Homo sapiens: one gene and its partner. The protein of the gene in region 2 interacts with the protein of the main gene of each other region in a pairwise test. Each region holds a gene or a part of one and is shown on either strand. Other genes may lie near its edges. The genes, in order: TSHR and PTDSS1.

Region 1 (3,416 bases), on a different chromosome or scaffold from region 2:
AGAAGGAAGCAGCAAACCCAGCCCCCAACCATGATGGCACATGCGTGCCTGAGGCGGATCTTCCGGTCCAGGCGCATGGCGAAGGTGATGGCATACCAGCGCTCCAGGGTGATGACCGTCAGCGTATACACCGATAACTCGCTTGCAAAGACAGTGAAGAAACCAGCCGTGTTGCACCCAGGGCCTGTCTGCCAGTCGATGGCATGGTTGTAGTACTCAGAGTGAGTGTAGAGGTCTACAGAGGCGATGAGGAGCAGGTACATCCCCATGCAGAAATCCGCAAAGGCCAGGTTGCACATGAGAAAGCGGGGGACGTTCAGTTTGTAGTGGCTGGTGAGGAGAATAAGCAGGACAAAGACATTGCCCAGGAGAGCCAGCAGACTAACGAACCACACCACAATTCTCAGGAACTTGTAGCCCATTATGTCTTCACACGGGTTGAACTCATCGGACTTGGGGGTACACACCATGTCTTCACTGTCCCCACATATGGTGTAGTCATAATGGCTGTCAAAAGCTTGTAGAGTCTCTTCCTGGGGGTTTTTGAGCTCCTGGCCAAAACCAATGATCTCATCCTCTTGTTCTTCAAAGAAGACGTAATAATGAGCGTTGTTATGAGTATCCTGGAACTTGGACTTTTCCTTGTACCCAACAATGCTGTCACCCAGATTCTCTTCATATTCCTGGTGGAGGGGGCTATTCAAGGCATTCACAGATTTTCTCTGGCGCAAGCTCTGCATACTGCTCTCATTACACATCAAGGACTCAAGGATTCTGCAAGGCAACAGAAAAGAGTCAGTGCCAGGCTGGGCGCAGTGGCTCATGACTGTAATCCCAGCACTTTGGGAGGCCAAGGCAGGTGGATTGCTTGAGCCTAGGAGTTTGAGACCAGCCTGGGCAACATGGTGAAATCCCATCTCTATAAAAAATGCAAACATTGGCTGGGCATGGTGGTATGTGCCTATGGTCGTAGCTACTCGGGAGGCTGAGGTGGGAAAATCACCTGAGCCTGGGGAGGTCAAAGCTGCAGTGAGGCGAGATCAGGCCACTATACTCTAGCCTGGATGACAGAGTGAGACCCTGTCTCAAAAAAAAAAAAAAAAAAAAGAATGCTTGTTTAAAACCCACGAATGGTTCCCACATTTATGAAAATGTGCAAACTACTTACTATGATGTACATAATTCTATAAGGTTCTACAGGATCCAGGCAGGCCTGTTTCTGTGACATCATTCCTATGACCTCCCCTCCCCTACTGTGCTCCAGTGGCATTGGTCTTATTTCTCTTCTGCAACCACTTCAAGAACAGTGATTAAAAAAAAAAAAGTGGCCAAGTGTGCTGGCTCACACCTGTAGTGACTCAATCCCAGCACTTTGGGAGGCCAAGGCAGGCACATCACTTGAGGTCAGGAGCTTGAACCAGCCTGGCCAACATGGTGAAACCCCATCTCTACTGAAAATCCAAAAATTAGCCAGGCGTAGTGGCACGTGCCTGTAATTCCAGCTACTTGGGAGGCTGAGGCAGGAGAATCGCTTAAACCTGGGAGGTGGAGGTTGCAGTGAGTCAAGATTGCGCCACTGCATTCCAGGCTGAGTGGCGACAGAGTGAGACTCTGTTTAAAAAAAAAATGTGGATGCTGGAGCCAGTCGCCTTGGTGGGAACCTGGCTCAATTATTGACTAGCTTGGGTAGGCCCATGAAGTTTGGTTAACTCATTTGTAACATGGGACAATGGGAGTGACTATTTCATATAGGGTTATTAAAGGATTCAATGAATTTATCTTTTTAAGGCTCTTACAATAGCACCTGCAGCTTTGTGAGTGCCATATGGTGGTTATTGTTATTATTATTCCTATTCAAAGCTCTAAAACCCTATGTTCCCATTGCCTGAAAAACCCATGGCTGCCTCTACTCATCATTATTTAGTTTCAAACTGAATATTTTAAAAATAAAACATTTATGTATTTTTAGTAGATACAGGGTTTCACCATGTTGGCCAGGCTGGGCTTGAACTCTTGACCTCAAGTGATCCGCCCACCTCTGCCTCCCAAAGTGCTAGGATTACAGAAGTGAGCCACTGCCCCCGGCCAGCCTGTTTATTTTCTGACTTCCTCCATTAGACAGTAAGCAAAATACAAGAGGGAATTCTTGTCTGTTCTATTTACAACAGCCAGGCACATAGAAGGTGCTCAGTAAATATCTGTTTAACAAATGAACAAATGGACACTACCATACAGGCATGCTTGTGGAAATAAGATTTAGTTTTTTCCTTGCTCACCAGACTCACAACAAAAGGGATTCTTTAACTTGCCTCAGCTGCTGAGCAGAGTTTGAGTGATCTCTTGGGTTCTGCTTAAAATGTCCAATGGACTTGCTCTTCTCAACTGGAGGCTAGGGAAAAATCTAGACCCTGCCCCTGAGGTCCACTTAAGCCTCCCACCCAGCCCTTGTCCAGTCCTTCTCAATGCCGCATGGCATCAGTGTAGAGTCCACTATCACCATCCTCTACCCCACTCCTGGCTTTTTGCAGCTATGATGCCCATATTGGCCTTCTTTGTGTGTGTGTGTGCATGTGCCTGTGTGTGATGGAATCTCAGAATCTTGCTTTGTTGCCCAGGCTGGAGTGCACTGGCACGATCTCGGCTCACTGCAACCTCCGCCTACCGGGTTCAAGCAATTCTTCTGCCTCAGCCTCTCCAGTAGCTGGGATTACAGGAACCCACCACCACATCTGGCTAATTTTGTTTTTTGTATTTTTAGTACAGACGGGGTTTCACCATGTTGGCCTGGCCGGTCTCGAACTCCTGACCTCAGATGATCTGGCCATCTCAGCCTCCCAAAGTGCTGGGATTACAGGCGTGAGCCACTGTGCCCGGCCACCATATTGGCCTTCTTTGTATGGCTGTTTTAGCTTCTGCCCTCACACCTAGATCTGATATTTTCCTGACTGCAATTATGTGTGTAGTAAGTCAATCACTAAATACATAGAAGCTGAGGAGGACTGAATAGAGATGATGAAGGTGGATTAGGAGAACAGGAGATTGTACAAGACACAATGGGGGAAATAATGCAGAGTAAAAGCAAAAAAGTAAAAGAATCAGAGAAAGCCTGGAGAGAAAATGAAGGCAATTCCTCCTTCGCAGGCTCATAAGCAGCCTGATGTGCACATACTGTATATCATAGTTAATATTAATGAAGATCTTATAATATTCCAGGCCATTCCATTCCAGTGTTTTCCATTCAGTTTCTCATTTAATCTTCTCAAAACTGCTATGAATGTTAGTATTAGGATCTCCATTCCCAAAGACTCAGAGTGGTTAAGTAACTAGGCTGGGATAACACAGCTTGAAAAATGGCAGAGCTGCGGTATAAACCCAGCTGACTCCAAAGCCTGCAGGCATGTAACCAGGGAGCTATG
Region 2 (3,823 bases):
AGGCATATGTAAAGTGTTGGGCACTATTATGGATCGGTTGAATTGTGTCCTCTCAAAACTCCTATGTTGAAGCCCTAACCTCCAATATCTCAGAATTTGAGCTTATTTGGAGATAGTCATTGGAGAGGTACTTTGTTAAGATGAGATCATAGGCAGTACAGTGAGCTGCTAATCCAATATGACTTGTGTCCTTATAAAAGGGAATGCTCTTGTGTCCTTATGAAAAAGAACACATGGGGCTGGGCACAGTGGCTCACGCCTGTAATCCCAGCACTTTGGGAGGCTGAGGTGGGCAGATCACAAGGACAGGAGATTGAGACCATCCTGGCTAACATGGTGAGACCCCGTCTCTACTAAAAATACCAAAAATTAGCTGGGCGTGGTGGCACACGCCTGTAGTTCCAGCTACTCGGGAGGCTGAGGCAGGAGAATGGCGTGAACCCAGGAGGCGGAGCTTGCAGTGAGCTGAGATCGTGCCACTGCACTCCAGCCTGGGCGAGAGCAAGACTCTGTCGCAAAAAAAAAAAAAAAAAAAAAAAAAAGAACACCATGAAGGCTCAGACACGCACAGGGAGAATGCCACATGACCAGGAAGGGGTCATGCATCAACAAGCCCAGGGACCACGACTGCCAGCAAACCACAAAGATAGAGAAGGAGCCTGAAAAAAATGCTCCAAAAGGCCCCAGGGGGAACCAGTCCTGCCGACGCTTTGATCTTGGACTTCTGGCCTCCAGAACAGTGAGAGGCACATTAACAGAAGCCACATCTAGTTGGCACACGTCTCTAAGTTAGGGTCAGGACAATGATGAGCATGGAGAAGTATACTGCGCATGTGGACGAATTCTGTTCACTGGGAATGATTCATAATAATAGAACAATAATGAGTTAGTTCCCAAAATTTCATTTTGCTAATGGTTTTTCAAGACTATAACTCTTTTATTAAGTAAATGCAACAAACTTTTGATTACTGACATATTAGAGCTAACATTTGGAATCCATTTTGCAGCTACCAAATACCCTGGATGCTCTTATAGTACTTGAACACACAATTCTATTATCTCAAACTGGAAGCTAGTTAGTAGGTCAACTGATCTATTGAATTCTAAGCAGGTCTCCTCATTCCCATTTATTTGTCTTACTTGGAATTTTAACTTCATTCTTTAGCTTTATTTCATTTGTTTCTCTTTAAGACTTGCAGGACAGAGGTGCACTTTATTAAGTTAACAAGGAGGTATTTTTAATATTTGCTTGTTTTTTAAACAGAAGTATTAAATATTCTTATGGGATGGTTTAAATACTGTTTTGTACCACAGGGGCTGGAGAACGGATTAACTGACTGTTAACTGACATACTTTTTCCTATATATAAACTACACACATGGCACAGTCTGGGGAACCCCCAATGCCCTCCTTCTTACCTCAGTCAGCTCCCAGGTAATACTGATTGTCCAGCAGAGACCGTAACTACGGATCAGCAAGGCCTTCATGGCCCAGCCCCAGAAATGTCCAAATGCAAAAATATCAAAGTGGCTGATAATCCTCTCCCAGGTGATCACATGGCAGTTCACAGCATACTCCTATTTAAAATAAAAAAGAGAATAATTAGTGAAACTCTAGAAATCAACTTGCTTCCAGGATTCTGCCGGTAAATAAAAAGAATAGATATGAACTTGACAACAAATAAGTCCTGCTCAGTAACAAATGAGAAAGTTTTAATAACTTAAGGGCCTTGAGGGAAAATAGACAAGTATTTGAGTTTATAAATCAAAACTGCTTTGCTCTGAATTGCAAAAGCTGCATTAAAATGAGAAGCAAAATAATTTTACAAAGGCTCAACATATCCTAAAGAAGTGGTATCACATAGATCATGTCATCAGACCACAGGGCAACAATATTAAAGCCAGTAACTAAAGCACAAATAAAAGATTCCCAATAGATTTGGAAATTTAAACACACATTTCTAAGTATCATGGATTAAAGAAGAAATCATAATAGGAATTTTTTTTAACGTGTCATAATGATAACGAAAATACACCACGTAAAAATTGAACTTTAGAGGAAAATGTAAAGCCTTAAATAGTTATGCTAGAAAAAAGAAGAAAAGCACCCAACTTCAGTAATTAAAAGAGAACTCCCCTCCCCAAAAATATATCGGATACTACATAATTTAAATATTAAAAATTACAAAGCTTTTCAGAATGTTGGTTCCATTTCTAATATCTTTGTTTTTGATTATACGTATTTCTAAGTAATTTAATATCTTATCATATGACTGCATGACAATATGATAATATAACATTTACTGGGAATCTCTACATTTCACATCCTTTCTTCCCAAAATTAATTTGACAGGCAGTAGTAAGAGTTGGCAAATATTCACCCCCTATTATCAGCCAGCTGAAAAAAATTCCTATAAACTATAATAGTTTTAAATTCCAGAAATGATACTTTCTGAGAGCAAAAGAGCTTCCCTGTCTCTTCTGAAACCCACCACACATCAGATTTCCTTCTCAGATAAAATGCATTTCAACTTGCAAAGCTGAACAAACATTTTTAAGAATTCTATTTTTTGAGAAGCAGTATGATGTGAGATTATGCTGTGTAAATGGGAAATCTGGAGAAAAGAGGATAAAATTCAATAGGGTAAGTCAAGATAAGGCTTTAAAAGAAACAAACTGCCCTGCAATAAGATGAAAAGTTTCTTCCCGGACTCTGGAACAGCACGTTCTTGTCACAGAGAATCACAGGCTGACAGAGGGAAATGCCCTTAGCTGAAGCAGGTTGTATATTAGGTTAAGGAGCAGGGCCACGTCCAGTCAACCTCAAATGTCTCAACCACCCCACCCTCTTCTTTACTCTGGAATACACTGTGTAGGGTTAGATAAGGAAGGGGTAAGATCTGTTTTTAGAAGGCTGCTCTTAAAGTAATCACAGCTTGCAGATAACTCTGGAGGACTTTACACTCTATTAAGTAGCTCTATGCTTTGACATGCGGAAAGGCATTTTAAAAATCATAAAGACCAATCCGTCTATTTGCAGTATAGTTAGTAATGAACAGATTTGCCAATTATCCCCTCATAAGACCTGAGGTCCTTGTCCTGGAAGGGCCACAGGGCATTGCAGTTTAAAGCAGCCAGAGAGCTGCATGCAGGCAGAACCCTGGGAACCAGGAGGAACAGGCTTTAACTGAAGACAGTGTAGAGCTGAAGCCTGGAAAGGGGGTCAAGTGGACAGGTGCATGCCTGTGAGCAAAAGATGGGTAAAGACAGATTCTGCTGACTTCCCAACTGGTCCTAGGCTGATCTTGGCGGCCTTACCCTCTGCCTTGCTTGCTGGACACCTAACCAAATACCAAGTCCTATTCACTTTACCTCCCCAGGTTGTTCTTTTATGCATCTCGCTGCCACTATTATTTCTTGCTTAGACTTCCATAATAATAGCTTTTGAAAACTGTGGAATGTGTCAGGCATATAACAAAGTATAGATGATGCTATAATAAGCACCTAGGTATTCACATCTAGCTTACGACTACAGAGAGATCTTGAAAATCATAATCAGATCACGGAACGTGCATGCATGTGTGTAAGGGTGTCTGGGGCAGGAGGTGGGAAGAAAGGGGTTGGGTAGCATGCCCGTCCCAATGTAGAAGGATCTCCACTACTACACACGCCAGGTCTCCAGCCCAACTATCTCTTCACTCCTCTCTGGGGCAGTTGCTGACTTTGGAAGAAGAAAGAGATCCAACCTCTTTTGGGTCCTCTTTGGAAATTATTTGCTTACAGACAGCACAGGTTCTCATCAGCTCCCCCAGCCATGCAGCAAT

What was found.
Region 1: the proteins of PTDSS1 (region 2) and TSHR interact in a two-hybrid assay, tested with the Homo sapiens proteins (one large-scale study listed by BioGRID and IntAct).

The regions. Positions count from the first base shown.
Region 1 is NC_000014.9:81,140,298-81,143,713, reverse strand, and holds part of TSHR (thyrotropin receptor isoform 1 precursor), read right to left. Parts: intron 775-3,416; coding exon 1-774. UniProt on the Homo sapiens protein: Receptor for the thyroid-stimulating hormone (TSH) or thyrotropin. Also acts as a receptor for the heterodimeric glycoprotein hormone (GPHA2:GPHB5) or thyrostimulin. The activity of this receptor is mediated by G proteins which activate adenylate cyclase.
Region 2 is NC_000008.11:96,292,852-96,296,674, reverse strand, and holds part of PTDSS1 (phosphatidylserine synthase 1), read right to left. Parts: intron 1,578-3,823; coding exon 1,419-1,577; intron 1-1,418. UniProt on the Homo sapiens protein: Catalyzes a base-exchange reaction in which the polar head group of phosphatidylethanolamine (PE) or phosphatidylcholine (PC) is replaced by L-serine. Catalyzes mainly the conversion of phosphatidylcholine.